2 separate regions of the Homo sapiens genome follow, and region 1 is linked to region 2. The links come from fine-mapping of genetic effects on gene expression. A gene starts in region 2. The other region holds a variant in brackets. All regions are shown on one strand. Distances are from middle to middle. Region 1 overlaps LINC02375 (long intergenic non-protein coding RNA 2375). Region 2 holds the start of LINC02375 (long intergenic non-protein coding RNA 2375).

Region 1 (10,438 bases), 15 kb before region 2:
AGGCAATTTATCTGAATCAATTTCAGGTGCAACTAATCAGGTGTTCAAGATAATATTACTTTGAATGCTCTTCATTAGGAAGCTGGTGCTGATGAAGCAAAACAGGCACTGGCAGGAAGGACACAGGAAGATGTATTATGAGGCTGGCTGGTCTGAATGGCACAGTGGCCCTGGTATCTTCAAAAATGATTTGTGCAAGTTTAAAGACGAGAGAGAGTTTCAGAGTTGACAATAATTGCTGTAAACAGTAGCAATTTAGTATCTATTAGCCATGCTTGTTCAAGTAGCTGAAATGGAATTTCTAAGCATTGCAAACCAACTGCTTTGGCAAAAGCAAAAACATGTGATCCTTTGGTCATGATCTAGCAGCAGGCTGTGCCTAGCACAGATAAGCCCAGGGCAAAGCAAATGGTGTATGGGGATACGGTCGGCGTGGAAAAGCACATAAGAGGAAATGTGTCTAAGCCACTGAATACTTTTCTCAGAGACAGAGCAGCCTGGATAAGAAGCAAGAAGCTTCAAGAATCCCCAGTCCTAGGCATGAGGGCTGTCCTGCTCTCCTTCGCAGGATGTGCTAACTGAGAGAGAAGTCATCTCCACTGACCAGGGATGCAGGGCCCCTGGAACGCTCACCTGCTGTGGGGAATGAAGAACATCCAGGGCAGTGGCTGTGGAGACTATGGCCCTTTTGTCTGCTGGTTGAGGCTGCAGGGAGAGAGACATGCCAGCCATGAGCTGCACTCCCAGCTCTGCGATGGTGACTCAGTCATCCAGGACAATCACCGTCTTCTCAGCCAGGATGGAGTCCAAGAGTGGCAAGAAGACCTGAAATGTAGGCGAGGAGGCTCATGCATCTCTGTTCCTCATAAGCACCATGAATCCCTTAACTTAGGGCTCCCAACAAAGTGCTCTCCCAGCCCTCAGCTCAATGCATATGCTTGTGGGAATTCCTTAGGAAAGTGTTATGCTACGATTCCATTACACTTGCCAATTTAAAAGGGAGTTCAGAAAGTATCATCTTGGTCCATTTTCTTTCCTTATTGGTAAAAATATATGATAACAATAACAGTACATTTTCTGAGAACTTCATTTAATTAAGGGACAATAACTCAAAACAGCCCATTTAGAAATACTGAATGCTCAAAGAATAACATTTTCCCATCAACTGGGATTAATGTTTCAAAAATTGCAGAATTGCAATAAACTGTTTAAAGGAATGGTGTTCATATCTCTTCTGCTCATAGTCCATCCAGCAGGCAGGTAGATGTTTACTATGGGACAGTAATGATCATTGTGTGGGCTGCTGCACCATCACCTTTGTTGGCAGAGGCCTTCTAGTCTGTACAGAAGCAGCTTCCTGAGCTTATGGTCCTAAGGTTGCCAGAGGACCCCCTCCATCCACCATCCTGCCCTAATCAAAAATCACTGCTCTCTGAGCTAAGCTACTTGTATTACTGCTAAGACATCTGAAATGTGTCTCTCGTGTTGCCTATCTTGGTTTCTCTCTTCCTTCCTCGGGGTTCCAGCCCTTCCTCTCACTCTGGCACATGCTCTACTCTGACCTTCACCTGTCCAGAACCCACCCTGAAACAGCCTCTCTGGCTCTGCAACTCCAGAAACTTCCCCTCAAGAAGTAGCTGTCCTGTGTCCCTTTATGAGAACACTTTGTTTGGTTGCCACTGCCTAGTCTGTGTGTTTAGTAGCTGGGGATTGTGGCAGGGGAGAAAGAGGAGTGACTCATGGGTCCTGAGTGAGACCTGTTGGGTGCCCTGCTGCATGTGCTCATGGGAGAAAGAGAGCTGACATCAACTTCCCCAGCAGCACAGGACAGCCATGCATGTTCAACCCACGTAAGCTTCACAGAACTTCAAAGAGTGTGGTTGAATTATTTCTCTGATATTACCGATAAGGAAACCAAGGCATGGCAGAGAGAGGCCACCCATCCAGGGCCACACAGCTGGTCATCTGCAGAAGCAGGGTCTGTGCCCACGTAGACCACCTGTTGTGACCTCTTCCTTTCTATAGCTAAATCCATTCGTCTTCTCAACAGGTATGAAATACATCCTTATTTTTGCATGAAGAAACCAAGGCTCAGAGAGGCTTATGGGTGGCCCAGATAATTGTGAATTAGCACATTGGGATCCAGCTCCATTTCACTTTTGAAACCCAACTTCTTTACAATATGCTGTTCTGCCTCCCTGTAAGGTCTGAGAATTACACTTACCTGGAAGGGAAGATACCATGATCATGAAGGTGGTTTTCCCAGGGCGAGGCTTGTCTATTGCACACTTCGAGAACCATTTACTTGTATTACTGCTAAAACATCTGAAATGTGTCTTTCCTGTTGCCAATCATGGCTTCTTTCTTCCTTCCTTAGAGCTGCAGCTCTAAGTGATAGGAAAATTTTCGCCAGCATAGTAAGAGCAATTTGGGTTTCCCAAAGTGCAAGGTGAATATTTCAATGGGTAAAACAAATAATTTTCAATGAAAAAATTATAGGTAGCAGGAACATAGCATTTAAAAACAGAAGGAAAAGTTATGAGCTCAATCCTTTCCATGATATTAGGAGAAATTCTCTGTTCAGTGCTGGAATGTCTTCAACAGTTCTCTGACCCTTGCTGTTCTTCATTAGTTAATAAAGACAAACTCATAGACATAGGCAGACCATAGTATCTACTCAGATTTTTAATAGTATCAGTTTATTTTTTCCAAATTCATTTTTATTTGACTTTTTACTACATGGTGGATTGTACTATTTTTTGTGTGTCAGTAAGATGAAGCACCCTAATTTAAGTAAGGATTAAAGAGCTTAACAGGAACAATAATAAAGGTGGCATTTGAAAAAGGAAGTATCTTGAAAGTGGTACGTGGATAAATGAAGTTTTAGAGCTGCCATATAAATGGAAGTAAAACAGGTTGGATTAGTCTGTTCTGATTCTGCTAATAAAGATATAGCCAAGACTGGGTAATTTATAAAGAAAAGAGGTTTAATCGACACACAGTTCCATGGCTGTGTGGCCAGAGAGTCCTCACAATCATGGCAGAAGGTGAAGGAAGAGCAAAGTCACATCTCACATGGCAGCAGGCAAGAGATCTTATGTAGGGGAACTCCCCTTTATAAAACCAGATCTCATGAGACCAGATCTCCCCTTTATAAAACTACCAGATCTCATGAGACTTCTCCACTATCATGAGAACAGCACAGGAAAGACCCACCCCTATGATTCAATTACCTCCCACTGGATCCCTCCCACAACACGTGGGAATTATGAGAGCTACAATTCAAGATGAGATTTGGGTAGGGACACAGCCAAATCATATCAGAGGTCTATTTTAAGACATATTATACCATATTCAATATCATATCTTTGTTTTGTACCCTAACTCTGTAGACACCTGTGAACTCTATGTCACTTTTATTCACCTTTGCATCTCCAAGGCCTATAGCACTAGGCGGAAATACACTTAAAAATATGTTTAACTATTTTAACTATCTTGCATTGTTGTGATATTTTTGCAGTGTGACATCCATCTTAAAAAGCAAAATGTGCACAATCTTCCTCCAAATGTGCCATTCTCAGTGGTTCCTTTGCCTTTAGAGGCGAAAGCTTCATTCGTACAAACCAGACTTCCCTCTCTGTTTCATTAATGGACTTAGAGGCTTCCTGTTCAGTAACCAGCAATGAAAAATTACTTTTAATTACTTCTTCTAACCCAGGAAAGGCATGCCATTTTTCAGTTACCAGGTATAGATGGCAATAGAGAGAGATGAGAGATGTGGAGCAAAAACTCTCATACAACCCATTCCCCACCTACCACGGCCCAGCCCAGGGAGGAAGCACAGCTTCAGGGCTCTGGCTGCAATGTACAGGCAACAGGAATATGAAAAGAGGTGCACGGACACAGGTGGTCCCAAGAGAGGGTGATGGAGACCCGTGCTGTCCTCCCAGCCCCATATATGTGCAGGGCACTCCTGGCGTCTGTGGGCTGCCACCCGGATCCAGCAAACATTCTTCTTGAAGGCCCAAAGAACTTTGCTTCCTCCTCTTTATCATGAACTGATCAATAGATATTTTCCATGAGCCCTACTGAGTGCCAGGCCAGGTTCTATGCTCTGGGGAAGCAGTAGTGAGTGAAACAGATTTGTCCTCTGTGCCTGGGAAGCTTATATTTTAGAAAACGGGAGGGAGATATTACAAAAATATTAAAACATAATAATAGTTATAATTTCATGTGTGTTTAATGGGTTCCTCACTTCTATTCTCCCCTTTTCTTGGAAGGCTGAATATTGGCAAACTCACTATTTTTAACCTGAAGAGCTGACCTTGCAATGTGGTTTCCTGCCCATTCTATTATTAATAGAATCTTGAACCAAAGCAAGTAGAATCACGTGTGTGAAAGGCCTGATCTCCTACTCAAAACCATCCAGGAATTAAACAGCATGGATGATATCTCAGTTCAAGTTCCTTGCGTGTGAGGGGGGATTGAAGAAGCTGCCAACAGAGGGACCATCAGCTACTTGGGTCCTTCCTGTGATGTCCCTGAGAGCAGAGGCATGGTGGTGGTGTGGGGAGGTTAGGGGAGCTTTGTAGTTGCCTCTGCCACTGGATGCAGACACCTCAGGCATGGTAGGATTCCTCTGAGCCTCAGGCTCTGCATCTGGAATAGAGGGTATTCATTCTCAGCTTCACAAAGCTACTATCTAAGCATCAAATCAGAGCAATTTGGAAACGGTGAAGGGCGGACCACATCTCAGTGACATGACTGTGTTTTGCTTTGAGTGGGGTAAAGGGAAAGCAAGCTTTTAACAGGAAAAGTGGAATAAAATGCTCAGGAACACCTAAGGAACAAACCCACCCTGGAACACACAGTGGCTGTGAAATAATGAGGTTGCTTTCTAGGCCGTGGCATGGAAAGCCTCCGGGATTTACTGTGGAATGAGAAAACCGAACAAGAGCAGCATGGTGTATACAGCGTACTCCATTCAGTGCAAGAATGAAAAAGGAAAAGGTATAATAGTGTGCATTATTATTTTATTTTATTTTATTTAAAAAAAACAAGAAGAAAAATGAAAAAATACTACAGATAGAATTGGAAGGAAATTGCTGGAAGTAGATAGGGTGAGGATAAACTTTTCAATGTATACTTTTTATGTTGTTTGATTTTGGACTAAGTTATTATGTTTCTTTTTTCAAAAAATAAAATAAGTTTTAAACATTGAGCAATGTTTTTCTTCTCTGGTATCCTTCCATCTTGAGCAGTTTCTGCAGTACTTCAGAAACAGAACATAGAGAGAATTTAATTTCCTGGACTCTTTAGATCAGGAAACTTAACTTGACTTTCTTCCTATTGAGGATATCAAGATATTTGGGTATGTTAATCTACTGCCATCTTCAGAAGCTTTCCCTTCAAGGAGAAAATGCCTTTCAGCTTAAGCAACAAAATATTTGCTTAGGTGTATTATTAATATACCACTCTGGAAGCAAAGTTTTCTGAATAATTCAAAGATTGTTGAGCAGAGAAAACCTGTCATCCTGTAATCAGTGTTTTATCTTATATTTTCACCAGCCCTTGAAATTACTCTTCAGTGACGCTTACTGGCACAATCTGCTACAAGAAACAGCTAGACGTTTTTGACT[G/A]TACAGCTTAGTTTTGGGCTTCTGTCCTCTGCAAGAAAAAGAAAACATCACTGAAACAAACACTGGTGATCTGGAAAGAAGCCAAAGCATGATATAAATAACCTGCTTGAGGCTGATCAGGCCCCATAACCCTCAAATGCCACCTTCTTCTCAGTGGCCGATGAAGTCTCAAAAGGTCTTTAACGACACCATCAGTTAGTTCCTCTTCTGTCTCCTCCTCTTTCTCCTTTCTTCTCATTCCCCCTTCTTACTCTTTCCCTTCCTCCTCCTCCATCTTCATCATCTTCTTTTTCTTCTCCTTGTTCTTACCCAAGACAAGGAAGAGGAAGAATGATTTTGGTGGAGAGGTAGCTGTTCTGTCATAGGTATGATCATCTATCTATAATTTGAGTGCTTTTTTGTTTATTGTTTGTTTTTAAATGGGCCTCCTTTGCCAAATGTGCTGCCTTGCTTTGGCTTACATTCCCTAGCACCCCGTGCATGTAGACATAGTCACATGAGACATGTTAACCGATAGAATTGGAGAAATATAAAAATAATTCATGTAATTCCTGCTGCCTCTGGACCAAAAGATTTTAAGAAGTAGTTTTGCCTCCTCCATGCTCTCTTTACCAGACCCAGACAACGATAAAGCCCAAGATGATGGCAGAGCCTGAGGATGGAAGGCTCTTGGGGCCTCTGGGGCTCTGCAGCCATTGAGGAGAGTTACCTCATACTCAGGAATGCCCACTGTGGACTACCAAGTAAGCTGGAAAAAACCTGTGCTATGTTTGATCTATAATACATCAGGAATATATTTGATTCAGTATTTTAGCATACTTGCAATAATACAATAGTAATTTCTAGAAATTTTCAATAATTTTTTAGTGCTTACTTTTTGCCAGGTATGATTTTAAGTGCTTCGCAGATATATTTCATTGAATTCTCTGGACAACTAGGAAGTATAATTCTCATCCTCAATTTGTAGGTGAGGAAACTGAGAAACAGAAGTTAAATAACAAGTCTGGAGTCATGCAGGTATAAGGGTCAGAGCCAGGAGTAACACCAGGCAGTCTGACTCCAGACTCCACACCCTCACCCAATGTACTGAAGTCTATGGACTTTGGTTGGCATCCACAAATAGCTGAAAATGAATAACACAGGAAAGAACAATAGGGAAATTAGAATAAAAGTAACTACAGCTGTCGTCTAAAGGCCCGGTTTTGTGCTCAGTGCTTCTAAGTATTGCATTATTTTACTTAAACTTAATAACCATCCTATGAGATAGACACGATTATTCTTCCCATTTTAATTTTTTCACATCAAAGTGCTAGTAAATATGCAAGTCAGATCCATCTGACCAAGCCCAGACCATTGTTAACTATTGTGGATTATTCTTTCCTAGGGTCTGAGCCCCGGAGAGCCAGTTTTATCCCATTTATAAAGAGTTCTAAAGGTTCTGAGTCCCAGGAGCATCAGATCCACAGTCTCCTCTCTGGTTTCTCAGCTTCTGTTGGAGGCCACTAAAATTCTCCAGCCCTTGTTGTAGCTCACTCCATGTTCCAGATCTCAATCTGCCAAAGGAGTCTCGGCGTCCAGATGGTGGCCTCATACTGAGAGGGAAGGTGCTGCAGGTGAAGGTCACCATGTGCCTCATTTCCTTCCCATTCATAAAATGGATTCACAGTTGCTAGAAACCTTTGGGGAGGAGGTAGAACCTTGAGATACATCAACAGGAAAAGCACCAGCAAAAATTGAAAATAGTGAAAGTTCATGAGACACAATAGTTCTGATTTATAAGACACCAAGACAACCAGAAGAACAGGACTTGTACAAAAGGTAATTTGTAGGCACTGATTAGTGACAAATACTAAAAAGTATTTGTCTTACCAAGAAAACTATTTGGTATTACAAAATACTGACAAGTAAAACCATACATATAATTTCATAAAGTAACATAAGCTTTGTTGCCACATATGTGTTTGCGTGTGTGTGTGTGTGTGTGTGTGTGTTCTTTAACAGGTCTGCTCAACCTACTGTTAATCAAACAAAAATTCTTGTACCATATTGGAAAATATATAAAAGGTGGCCATGTGTTACCAAAAAATCACTTTATTCAACCCATAAAGGGGATCACTTTTTTGTTAATCATGAGAGCTTTGCACTAGATTAAAATCTTGATAAGAAAATATTCACAAAATGCACTGGAAATATCAATGTTTTGCCCCCATTAAACTGTAATCTTGTGGAAAAGAAGTGAGACTGTGGTATTTCATTACATTCTCTTTATTCGGGACTTAGGATTAGCCTCTTTAACGTGCGTAAGTAGGCAGGTTAAGTATTAGACAATTTAAGCCTCCATTTCACTTCACATCTTCCAGATAAGCTATTAAAATATTGCTGAATTTCTCTCCTGGACCATCAGGAAAATGCATTTATGTGTGTAGAAGGAAAGAGGAAGGAGGATGCAAAATAAGCCATCAATTCACCACAGATTCATAAAACTGTAAGGGGCCCGCAATGTCATTTTACAGATGAAGAAACTGAAGCCAGCGAGGTGGCATAGCTGGCTCAAGATCACACACATCGTTGACGGGTGCAACGTCAGACTGGTTGCTGGCTGAGTTCTCCATCTCAGCAAGTGGTGCCGCCATGCAGCCTCTTTAGCAAGCTGCAAACTGGGACTGTTCTTGATGTTTCTCTTCCTCACCCAAGTGTCTATTTACAGCTCAGACCTCCCTTCTGAGCTCCAGATGCATGTGCCTCTTGACATCATCAGATGAAAGGCTCAATAGTTTCTTAGCGGCCAAACATACAAAATCAAACTCACGATCTCCTATTTCCCCCACAGCACAGTCTTCCATCTCAATAACTAACATTGCCTTTTATCCAGCAGAACAAATTGAACATCACGATGTCTTCTTTAATTCCACCCATGTTCTTCACCACCGACATGCAACACTTCAAGTTCTCTTGGTTTTACTCCTAGGTGTCTTTTGTGCCTACGAATTTCTCTTCGCTGCTATTATACTAGCCCAGACCTCCATCACTTCCCACCTGGACATTTGCCACAACTTCAAAACTGCTCTCTTCACATCCCCTCTTCCCACACTGCCCTACTCTTCCTTGAGAGATTGTGTATGCAAATATGATCTAATCGTCTCCTGCTTACAGCCCTTTGATGGTTTCCCTTGGCTTTCAGGATCTCTGACTCAGTCTCCGTTATTAGCCCTATCTATTTCCAAATCTCCTCTCCCACCTTCTTTTGGTCACTCAATGATCCAGCCCCACGGAGGTACTTTTAGTATCTCCAGGGGCTGTGCCATAACTATTAACCTCAGGGCCTCTGGCCATGTGATTCCCTCTTCCTGGAACAGACACTTCCATGACTGCCTTGGTTGTTTTATTCGCTCAGCATTTATTCTTTCTGCCTATCTAAGCGCGAGTCACTTCCTCGGAGAAGCTTCCCAAATCTGCCTGGACTTGATGTGCTCTTTGCATGTGGTATGCAGACCTCCATGAAAATAGCCGGGCTTGCTACAAACAAGAAGGCTGCAATGGATGCATTAGGAAGTTCTTCACCTTCTCCATTGTTCTGGTGGTTGTCCCCTACTACAAGGACTTCCTGATCCTATCTCCTGTAGAGAAGACCTCTACATTCCTGCATTTGTGGAAAATTTTGATTTGACCATATATACTCCCTCTCGCTCCCCGCCCTCACCACCAATTTTACTTCAAATCATTTTGAATCACATCCGATTGTCAGGAACATATCGACTTTAGAAATCTTGAGGCCCTTTCTGTACATAAGAAATGAAATCACATTGCAGTGACCCTCGGCATTCTTTCAGAGCACATGCAGACTTAAATTTGCCTCAGCTTTCAGGAATTGAGAGATAGCCCACATGGAAAAATAAGTGAAAAATGAAACTAAGTGAGAGGCTTTGGCAATTCTGCGTGACTATTATTTGAGTTATTTCTTATGGGATATGCATTATCTTAAAAAAAAAAAAAGTGTTTCTTAGTAGCCATGTGACCACACACCAGCCCCCTGCCCAACTCACACACACACACACACACACACACTCTCACACTCTCTTTTAATAGTAATAAGGTTTTCTTCAGATAACCCTCCATTCACCATGTGCCCCTCTAACTCAGTAATTAAACCCCCATCCTCCTTGCCAGTGATTGATTTATGGGGAAAGCATGTGCTATTACTCTGGCCAATGAGCTGTGAGAAGTCCACGGCAGGGCTTCTGGGAAAGGCCTACTTGGTCAAAGAGACTCATGGGAAGTGGTGCCTCCTCCTCCTACAGGATGTTGTCGCATAGGAAATGACGACAGGAACTGCCCCAGAGATCCCAGAGCCCTGAGGGAGCCCAAAATGGGCCAGGCTGACCCTGCGAGTTCAGATGGACAGAAAGACAGAGGAACTCGGGACTTGATGACCTAGAGGGGCTGCTGGACCAGCTGCCTGGAACCTCCCCACTATGAGATGCCCTTCTTGTTGGTAAAGCCATCTGGATCTATGTGGTTTTGTTACTTGCCACCAAAAGGATTATAAATGATACAGGACCTCATCTCAAATGCCACTCCTCAGTATACATTCCTTGAGCCATTTCTAATTTAAACTTGGCACCCTCCTCTGGTTACTCTTTGTCTCCATTACACTATTTTCCTGTATCTAATTTGCTGTGTGTGCTACTGTGCACACTTATATTTACAACATTGATGCATTACTTAGACTCTTCGTATTGCTTATATCATGTCACTTACACTGTATTAATCACACCAGATTGCTCTGTTATATGATGAAC
Region 2 (10,438 bases):
GAAACAAGGTTTGATTCCACCTTTATAAACAAGTGCTATGAAAATTTTTCTCCCTATCAATTGTACACCTGCAACTTAGGCCCAAGATTATTACACAGTACAGCATCTATTAGATGCTTATTTATGAGCTGTTTTCATTTTAGCACTTTATCTCATGACGTTGGGAGATTTAAAAAGTGCCACCAACACTTGTTAGATTAGGAAAAGATCCAGGCATTTCATACGCATCAAAAGGTGCCGCAGAAGGGATTGGGGGTTGTTTATCTGGTAAAAGCCCAGCATATGGTGCAGCCCAGCTCCCTGCTCCAGCTCTAGCTGCACTCTCTGAACCTGCCGTTAATTAGGTGCCATTGGTACAGGTGCTGGAGTCACAAGTTTAGCTGCTCAGGATTTGCACATAAATTAGTCAAAGAAAAGATAAACACTTTGGCAGGATAAGCATATTCTCAGGGTAGAAAGCAGGGTGTGTGTTTTCCAAACTTGTTTTAAAACTACTTATGAAAATTTATTTTAGAAAAGAAACTTTTATAAAAAGAATGCTGTGAATTGTGAAATCAAAGTGTAAAAATCAGCAGCTGAGTTTTTGTCTTTGAGACGAGAAAAGGGGAAAAGCAAATACAAAGACTTCCCTATCACTTGCTCCAGAATCATAACAGAAAAGAGTTCTCTTTGTTTTCCTCCAGTATATCAGACTTCCTCATACATACCTTTGCCTCATTGACATCATGTTTCAATCCTTATTAAAAACTTCTGCTGGCTGTGAGAAGGTCTACTAGAAATAGGAAATAAGTTCATCTCACTGGCCAAGGCAAGTCAATTTATAGTTGTGGCTCAAAGGAGCTCTGCTTGGGAGAGAATCTAGGGTTTAGCAGGAAGGAGTGCTGGTATTGATTAGTGATGTCTGCCATGGGCACATGCTAGGATTGAGAGCCACGTATGTCTTATCTCTGCTGCTCTGACTCATTAACAAGTCCCAATTCCACAAAGCAGTTCTTCTTTATGGTAAAGAGAATTGATGTTCCCTGCCCACCATCAAAGCTGCATGGCAGGAGTTTAAAGTGTGAACCAAGCCCCAAAACATCAATGAGAGTCACCTTCTCTCCTAATATACACAAAACAAATATGGCTCTGAGAAACACAAGACTCTAGGGCCTTGAGGAAAGAGCAGATGAAAGGCTTCCAGGGGAGGAGGGAAGGAAGCACATGGCCATGTTTACTGGGCAGGTGGAGCTGGGAGGCATGCAGGTTTACACTGGCTCATTCCAAGGTTTCCCTGAATTATGCAGAAACAATTCCAGATTGTTAGTTCTTAATTAGAGATGCCAAAGACAGAAATTAACAAACAATCTAATTAATATTGGAATCATAGTGAAGCTGACAGGAACAAAAGGTTGAGAATGCAGCAATATTTTTTCCTGGCCAACAGGAAAAACATGGCACATATCTAATTAGAATGGAACAATAAAATTCCAAATTACCAGCATAAAGGACAAAATTAAGCAATAACATCCAAACTGCCTGACAACTTATTCTTAGCTGTCTGGCTCCTAGTGATGAGCAAAGGAAAGAAATCTATGCACAGAAATAGAATGACAGTGTTTTTTTGTAGGAATTTTTGCCAATCATTGCTAAAGGAAAAAGAAGAAATAGCCTGAAACTTCTTTCGAGTTTTTCTATATGTTCTTCCAAATAAAATTCAAATCAGTCAGAGGGTTTCTTTGGAAGCCCATAGAAGACAAGGACCTTTTCCAGATAAGCCAGTGCAAAGAGTCTGTTCTGAACCCATTTCTTTCTCTTCATCAATACCTGTGGATTCCTCAGAAACACTCTCAATTCCACCCTTGCCTGTGGCTGAGCCTCTAGCTTCTATTTTGTTTACCTGATCCTACAGTGCACAACTTTTGGGGTAGATCAGACTGACAGTCCCCAGGCAGAATGTATTCATAGGCCCTTTCCAACTAAAAAGGTAACCAGTTCTCTATACATTGCCAAACACACAATGTTATTCAATTGAATGAGATTTTCAAGTCAAAAATCTTGCATAAAATCTACATTTCCAGAAACATCTGTTTTTAAATGAGATAGCAGTAAGAAGGAACTTTTTGTCCATTTTTAGGTACTGTGAATTTGGACATGTAATAGACTAATGTTTATTATTCAAAATATACTGAGTACACACACTTAAAATCCTTTCTGTGCTTCAGTTTCCTGAGCTGAAAAATGGGATAATACATCTACTTCATGGAAGGCTGTACAGATTGAATGTTGTAATGTATTTTTACAAAGTAGAACAAGTTCTGGCACAGTACCACTGGGTGTTGTAATGACGGTGTTGTCCTTGTTGCTATTACTGTATTTGAATAGACCATGGGGATAGAAATATTTACAAGGCATGGCACCTACCTCCAAGGGGCACATGCATCAACATGCACAAAGACATACAAAGTGCTGAGTCCCTAATGTGTCTGTACAGGACAATGGAAACACAGAGGTGAGATTCCTTGGCAGGGAGAGCAACAGGAAGGTGGCTGCACAGAACAGGGAGCACTTTAGCCAAGTCTCAGGGTGACTGGGAGGTATCCAGGTGAAGGAGTGGGAACAGGATTCCCAGTGCAGGGAATAGCATGAGCATGGGAAAACCATGAACAAAACCTCATCTTATTTTGAGACCTAAGTAGGTCCTAGTGTTTTGACAGTACAGGGAGCATCTCATGGAAGATGAAAATTTTCCTGTAGAATCAATCCTCACTCCTTGACCATGTGCTTCAAGTTAAGCCAATCCCACCTCCAGCTGCAGAGGTGGGTACATGACCCAGGCATGGCCAATCCACCTATTTTATTATATGGCCACAGTTCTACCAGATCAAAAATGGTCATGGGCATGAGACCCAGTGTTCTTTAAACCTGGAAATATTGTTGGAAGCACTAGAGAACAGAATCTTCCTTTTTGTGAACCTGAATGTGAAATGATGTAAACCTCTTAGCTGCTGCGGGTGACTATATAGAAATAATCCATCTGAGAATAAAGACAACATATGGGGATATCAGAAATAAGAGATGGAGAGTAACCAAATCCTAAGGAGCCTTTGGATCCAACTTAAAGTCATTATTACCTCTTCTAGTTACTTGCCCACTACACTTTCCTTCAGTGGCTCAAGCAAGTTATATTTGGATTTCTGTTATTTGCAAACAGGCAAACAGAATGCCCACAAATAGCTAGTGAGGGAATTCAGGTTATCCCTGCCAGATCTCACTACCTATCACACCTGTCCTACTCTGTTCCACCTGAATAATGATTCCTTTAGCTCAATGACCGCAGTTCAAATGTGCCTCTCTAAAGGACTAATTCAAAAAAAATATATTTCCTTCCATATTTTAATCTGAAAATTTAAAAACTTGAGGAAACCTCATCACAGAGCCCTTTTGTAGCTGCTGAAAATTAGCTCCGGAAATGCAGCTGCTCTATCAAAACTGCTGATCTTCACCAGAGGTGACATTGGGTTCTATTTAGTAACCAGCTTTCCACACACTGCCAAACAAGCAGCAGGAGAACCTTAGATTTCCTTGAGAGCTCATCCATCAGAAGATATTCTGCCTTAACCACTGGAAGGCTAAGTTTGAAAACAAGATGTCTCCCTGGGGATAGGAAGGCTTTTGCACACTAATGTCCTTTTACTAGCCCTCTAGAATCTCCTCATTGCTAGTCCAGCTGACGCTGGAAGCTGAGAAACTGAATTACTGCAGGGTAAAAAGGAGGGCACCATCTTTGAGACCAGCATGATTCTATGTTTTTTTTTCTTTCCAAGAATAAAGATGCTCATCTCCTGTTGATGATGCATGATGGACTTCTGGGGTTCTGGGAACCATCATTCATTGACAAAAATACAATTACTAATCCAATAAAAACAGGAGCCCACATATTAGAAAGATAGATCCCCAAAGATTACAAGAGAATCTTACTCTAAAAACCACATTTTCTGTCCTTCCTGTGAAGATGTACAAAGAAACTTGAGAAAGCTAGGAAAACATGTCTTCCTGCTATTTTTTTAACAAAGTATTTTACAAATACTTTGGAACAAGTCCACTACCAACTGATTCCTCTGATGGGGACCATAGGGATGGCATTTTGATACTAGCTCATAAGAACCTCCCCTAAGTATGTCCTGCACAACTACAAGGAATAACAGCTCAATAATTCTCCATGGTTAAGATTACAGGCTCTGGAGCCAGTCTTTTCAGATTGAATATATGATTGCTACACTCACTAGCTGAGTGGCCTTAGATGACTTTAATTAAACCATCTACACCTCCATCTACATCTCCTTATCTATGGACTGTGAAAGGTGGTATTTTCTACCTCAAAGGACTGTTATGAGAATTAAATGGATCAACACTTGTAGCAGCTGGCACATAATAAGTGTTAGCTATCAATATTCACTGTTCAATCAGTGTTAGCTATCAATATTCATTAGAGTGTAAGCTCCCAACGGCAGAAACCATATCCATTCCATCTTTGTGACTCGCACAACATTTTATACACTTTCCTATACATTATATATGTTCAATCAGTATATCTAGATTAAAATCACTCAGTAAGATCAAGGGAAGACTTGGTTCACAGGATCTTAGAACTCAGGTCCAAGTCTCCACCCATTGCCAAATCTGTTTGACACATAAGCCCTTCTGCCTCTTTTTGAAGATTTTCAGTGATGTTAAGTCCGCTCGGGATTGTCCAACAAAGATTGGACAGCCACTCTTAGGGTTTATTTCACCTCTGGATTCATTCATTCCTATGTTCAAAGTACTGATTGAGCACCATATATATATCAGGCACTGTGCAAGCACAGAGGACACGTGATTAGTAAAGGGACATAGCCCAGACTCCGTGGGTCCTACAGTCAAGTAGAGGTTAGAAGATAGAGGTGAAGATACGAATATGGATGTAACATAGATGTATATGTAGTATTTACTGATGTAGTGGAGGTCAAGCACTGTGTGACCCTTTTACAAACATCATTTCATTCTCTCCCAAATTTCACTGGTATTGCATCATACGACATTTAAACTAGTTAATTATAATTTATTTATCAGTGCTCAGCCTCTCTGTAGATTTCCACCTGACAACAGTTTATTATCAGAAGACATGAAAGAGAGAAGAATAAAATAGAGAGGGAAAAATTTAACTTAACTTCATTGTCTTCCTCCAAATCTTTCTTATCTATGACTCCATTCAATACTGCCTGTAAAACCAGTGTATGGTGAGGACCATATACTGCCCCATAAAATTTGCACATGGGTCAAATACAAGAAGAAATTAAAGCAAAGACAAAAACCAATTGGCCTGGGAACCTCTAAAAGCCTAGATGTTCTCCAAAACACTTTCAAAGATTTCTTGGATGAGTGTCAGTTCTGCTTCATGGACTGTCATTAGAACAGATCTCTAGAAAGGGTAGCTCCGCGCCTCAGCATTGTCATTCCCATTTTACAAATGAGGAAACTGGGCTTGGGGAAATTTAAGTAATTTTTCCCAAGATCAAATACATAGAAGATAGAACCAGGATTCGGACCAACATTATCTGTCTGAAAGCTTAACCAAAGAATTCAGTGGCTCTGCATTCTTTTTCCTTAAAGTAAGCTAAAAGTGGTTCCTTTTTAACTTCCCCTGTTGAAATATAAAAAGCACAAACCTACTCCATCTTCCACATGATGGCCCTTGAAAGACTTAAAAAGAGCTGTCAGTTCTCACTCTGTATGTTACCCCCAGGCTTTTTCTTCTCGGCATCAGGCTATACACTCTCACTTCCTTCAGGCAATTCTACTGTGATTTGATTTCAAAAGCCTTCAGCCCATGGACACTCTTCAGCAGAACACAATCTGACTTCCCATTGTTCTGTTTATGACCTAGAAAGAATTCTCTGTTGGAGTGACAGAGTGAGGGCTATCATCTGTTGCTCATTTTTGATGGAGACCAGTGTAAAAGAAATATCTCACATCACTCTGAAATCTACTGTCAGAAAGCCAGTAGCACAAATGTGACAAGAAATGACAAGAGCCCCTCACCCTCAGTGTGGAAGGCGAGAGGGAGTGGTGGAGATTACAGTGAGTTGGAGTGGTGGGGAGTGGAGAGCCTCTGTAGACAACTGGTCCACTCCAGATGATGATGACCGGCAGGAGTATGGGCGCAGGACAACCTGACCACATGGTGTTTCAAGAGGAGCTCGGAATCCAGATGTGAAATTAACAATGTTTGCATGCTGGAAATGGATTCAAATTTTAAAAAGTCAAACACACACACACAACCCTTCTGGACCAGATTTGGCATGAAGTACAGCAGCGTTGCCTGTGCTGGGACCATGCTCTGACTAATGCTGACGAAGATCACATCAGCCTCATGGCGACCTCTTCATTTGATTCATTGGCTCTTACTATTTATAAAGATGCCAAGATTTTTTCACACAGATGTTGCTGTTATGCTGCATATTTTGAAATTAATGAAAACTTTCTTAAACTAAGAGTAGAACTTTTTATCCTTCTTCCACCTGCCAGACTAGGTTGAGGTTCCAGTCTCTGAAAATTATTTTATTCTCCCAGATTCTGGACTCTTTAACAATTGTGTCCTCTGTCTTCTCCAAAGTCATACCAATCCTGAGATCAAAACTGCAAGCCAAGGCCCAGCGCGGTGGCTCACACCTATAATCCCAGCACTTTGGGAGTCCGAGGTGGGCAGATCACTAGTTCAAGAGATGGAGATGTTAATGCTGAAGACCTGAAATCAACAGAAAGGAATGTCTGGGTTACTATGATAAGGAGTAGAGAGTCCAAAGATTTATCATACAGATGAAGCCTGCAGGTAGCAAGCTTCAGAAAGAATATGGCCAACATGGTGAAACCCCGTCTCTATTAAAAATACACGTGGTGGCATGTGGCCGTGGTCCCAGCTACTCAGGAGGCTGAGGCAGGAGAAACACTTGAACCCAGGAGGCAGAGGTTGCAGTGAGCCCAGATCGCACCACTGCACTCCAGCTTGGCAACAGAGCAAGACTCTGTCTCAAAAAAAAAAAAAAAAAAAAAAGTGCAAGCCAAAAATAAAATCCTAAGGCCCTGAAATCATCTGAATGGACCCCTCTCCTCAGCCAAGGGCATCCCAAAGTTGGTTCAGGCCATAGGGAAGCAGGTCAGACATGCCTTGTGATACCCTCCTCCCTTTTGGAATTCAGGAAAAGCTGACCAGCATTAACATCAACACAAACCTTAAGTCTGATAAGAAACATTTATAATCTATTATTTTCGAAGCTTGATACCTGCAGGCTTCATCTTCATGACAAATCTTTGACTCCTCTATTCCTTATCATAGTAACCAGACATTCCTTTCTGTTGATTTCAGGTTGCCATTGCTTTTGGTGTTTTAGATATGAAGTCTTTGCCCATGCCTATGTCCTGAATGGTATTGCCTAGGTTTTCTTTTTTTATGGTTTTAGGTCTTTAGGATGGCCAGGGCAGGCGAGGGAGGGCAGGGTGGGACCAGACGGATGAACATGGCTGGGCGCGGTGGTTCACGCCTGTAATCCCAGCACTTTGGGAGGCCGAGGCGGGCAGATCATGAGATCAGGAGTTCGAGACCAGCCTGGCCAACAGACCAGCCTGGGCAATATGGTGAAACCCCGTCTCTACTCTTTCAAACAATTGCCAATTAGAACATTTTAAATCTACCTATAACTTGGCCCCCCTCCCTTGACTTCGAGTTGCCATTGCCCTGCCTTTCCAGATCTAACCAATGTACATCTTCTAGGTATTGATTGATGTATTATGCCTCCCTAAAAAGCATAAAAGCAAGCCGTACCTCGCCAACCTTAGGCACTGGGAGCATCCCTAACTTTGGCAAAATAAACTTTCTAAATTGATTGAGATCTGTCTCAGATACTTTTGAGTTCACAAATGCTGATATTCTCTTCATATCACCACAGTTTTCATTTTTCCAAATTCACACTTTCTCCCTTCCCTATATCCCAATCCACAGAATTTCCTCAGTCCACACTTTTCTTGCAGAAGCTCCATAAGATCCTTGCTATCTGTGGAGTATCCTCCTTGGGGATTGCTCGGCATTTCCTGAACTGACATGAGTGAAAATTCCACAGACTGGGGAGTGCTCCAAAAGGTGCTACTGAGGGTTCACACTGTCCTCAATGACCTGGCATATCACAAAGTCAACGCTAAGGAAAGCACATCTTTGAGGATGAGTCCATTCCTCGAGGAGTCCTGGCAACATGCATCATTAATATGGGCAGTACACCTTGGAAAACTACAATACATCTGATTTATTAAGTCCCCTCAATTTATACAGGCCAGGAGTTGAACAGAACCTGGACCTAGAATGGTGATGAAGCAGCCTCCATGTTTGGTGATTTGCAAACTCAGTATGTTCTCCTGGAGATCAAGCTTCAGTTTTCTGTCAAGAAATTCCCATATTCAGGTAGCTACAACAGTGACCATGCAGCACATAACTCCTGTTTTCCAAAGTGACGTATCTGTCAGGTTGGGGAGAGGGTATTCAGTATGTTTCTGTAGAATGGAGACAATTAAGTACAGTGCATAATGGAATCCAACTCTCCAAGAGCTTGGATTTGCCTCTCTTAGGGTGGAATCTCGAGGGCAAGAGATTGAGGTCTCTACCTTGTGGGGCTCCACACCAGGCTCTCTGGAGAGGACCTGCAGAGGCAAGTCATTTGTTTGGTCCATAGTAGCATCAGCCTGCAGATACAGTCTTTCTCTAAACACCACAATTCTTGGCTCCTTTGGTAATAATGAATGCTATGGCAACGCTAAATAATGAATATCGTCAGAGGCAACCGAGGAAAATGAGTCATCAATTTTATTTTGTTCCTGAGCAGATGATTGCCTGTGACTTGGCTCAGACCGTTTTAAACTCCAAATATTTAAGGCCCTTGATTTGTTTAATTAAACCTGCCAGGAGCCTCAGCACAGGGCTGCATAAAGTTGTTAAGCTATTTCGCCTTCTATCTCAGGAAAAATTAACTTCCCAAGCCCAGGAAACAGACTGTATAAAATTTCTGTTTCCTCAGGATTATTATCATTATTATTTTAAAAATTATACTTCACAGAAACAGCATTGTTTCTTTATGGAAACCATATCTGGCTTAAGGCACAGCCTCCCTGGAAGCCTTCACCAAGCTGTGATCTAAAACATGAACAAATCAACTGCTCTCAGATCTGCTCTACCATGGGAGAATACCCTAAAGGCTTTTCTGCCTACCATGAAGTTCTTAAGACTGAAACCAAGTTTCACTGAACCTCTAAACAGGAGCCAGTGGAATGGCATGAAGGACTTAGCTTAGCATTATTGTATTTATCTAAAATGAATGAATAGATTGAACCTGGAGGTTCTCTTAGCAACTTAAAGGAGAAAAGATGATTCTAAAATTTTAAATCCTTTCTCCATGAGGTCTTTGTTAGAAAAAAAAGAAAATAGGTGGGAACACTAAATTGGGTTGTTCAGACACCTGCAAAGAACAAGAAAACAAAAATGGGATGATTTCTGGCTGAATTTAGGACCATAAATCCAGCTAATTGGAATAATAATAAAAAAAAGCAGCAGAAATGTACCATGGCTCAATTTCCTCAATTTTGATTAACCTAATATAAGGATTAACCAGTGGATAATATTATATTAGGTTAGTTGTCACATGGATGAATGTTTTTTAATAGTCATTGAGTTTCATGCATATAGGGAGTGAGGGAAGGAAGGAACATAGAAGGGAGGGAGGGAATTCTTTTTGCTGGAGATTAAAGGTCAGGGATTCCCCTTTCAAGGGAGAGGGAAGCAGCATCGCCTGCTGCAGCCGCCTGCTGATTCCAGGGAGTCTCTGCGGTCAGCTGTTTCCTCCTTCATGAGGTCATTCTGGTTTCCAGCCCTTTAGAGCATGGGATGCTCAGTCAGAACCACACCTTGGAGACAAAAGAAGGAACGACAAAAAGCTCTGAACACTTAGGACTTCTGTAGATAAATCTCCCCTTACCTTAATGACATCTTCATTGGCAGACTTGCATTCCACAGACTCAGACACATAGACCACAGAACCATCCTCCTGGACCCTCACGACTTTGACAGGAACTGAAACAGGCTTTCCAGTGAGAATGGCAGTGTTCAAAACCTCAGTGTCCTAAACAGGAGAGGAGAGGGCTCAGATCAGCAAATGCGCACACCACCGGGGCAAGAGGGAGAGGGGTGTCCACCAAGCTCCCTACTGCCTTCATTCTCATTCTGTAATTTAGACAGTTGTCCAGAGGGATGAAGCCACGAAGCACACACAAAATGGAAGTTTCCAAACAATTGGATGGCATTCCATCCCAGACTGAGATATCAAACCTGATGGTTGGTTGGAATGTCTTCTCAGTACCCAGGTGCAGGGTCATTCTCCCT

The links.
Region 1: its variant is fine-mapped to the expression of LINC02375 in testis (GTEx, PIP above 0.99).

Annotation. Positions count from the first base shown.
Region 1 is chr12:127,319,139-127,329,576 of GRCh38, forward strand. LINC02375 (long intergenic non-protein coding RNA 2375) reads right to left here. Exons shown (of 3, transcript NR_110057.1): 3 at 5,017-5,667. It also overlaps the pseudogene LOC100420116 and the pseudogene RNU1-104P. Among named protein-coding and RNA genes, the nearest start is that of LINC02375, 16 kb to the right of the region's middle. The variant G/A (reference allele first, on the strand shown) is at 5,640.
Region 2 is chr12:127,334,223-127,344,660 of GRCh38, forward strand. It overlaps LINC02375 (long intergenic non-protein coding RNA 2375), which reads right to left and starts at 5,850. Exons shown (of 3, transcript NR_110057.1): 1 at 5,747-5,850.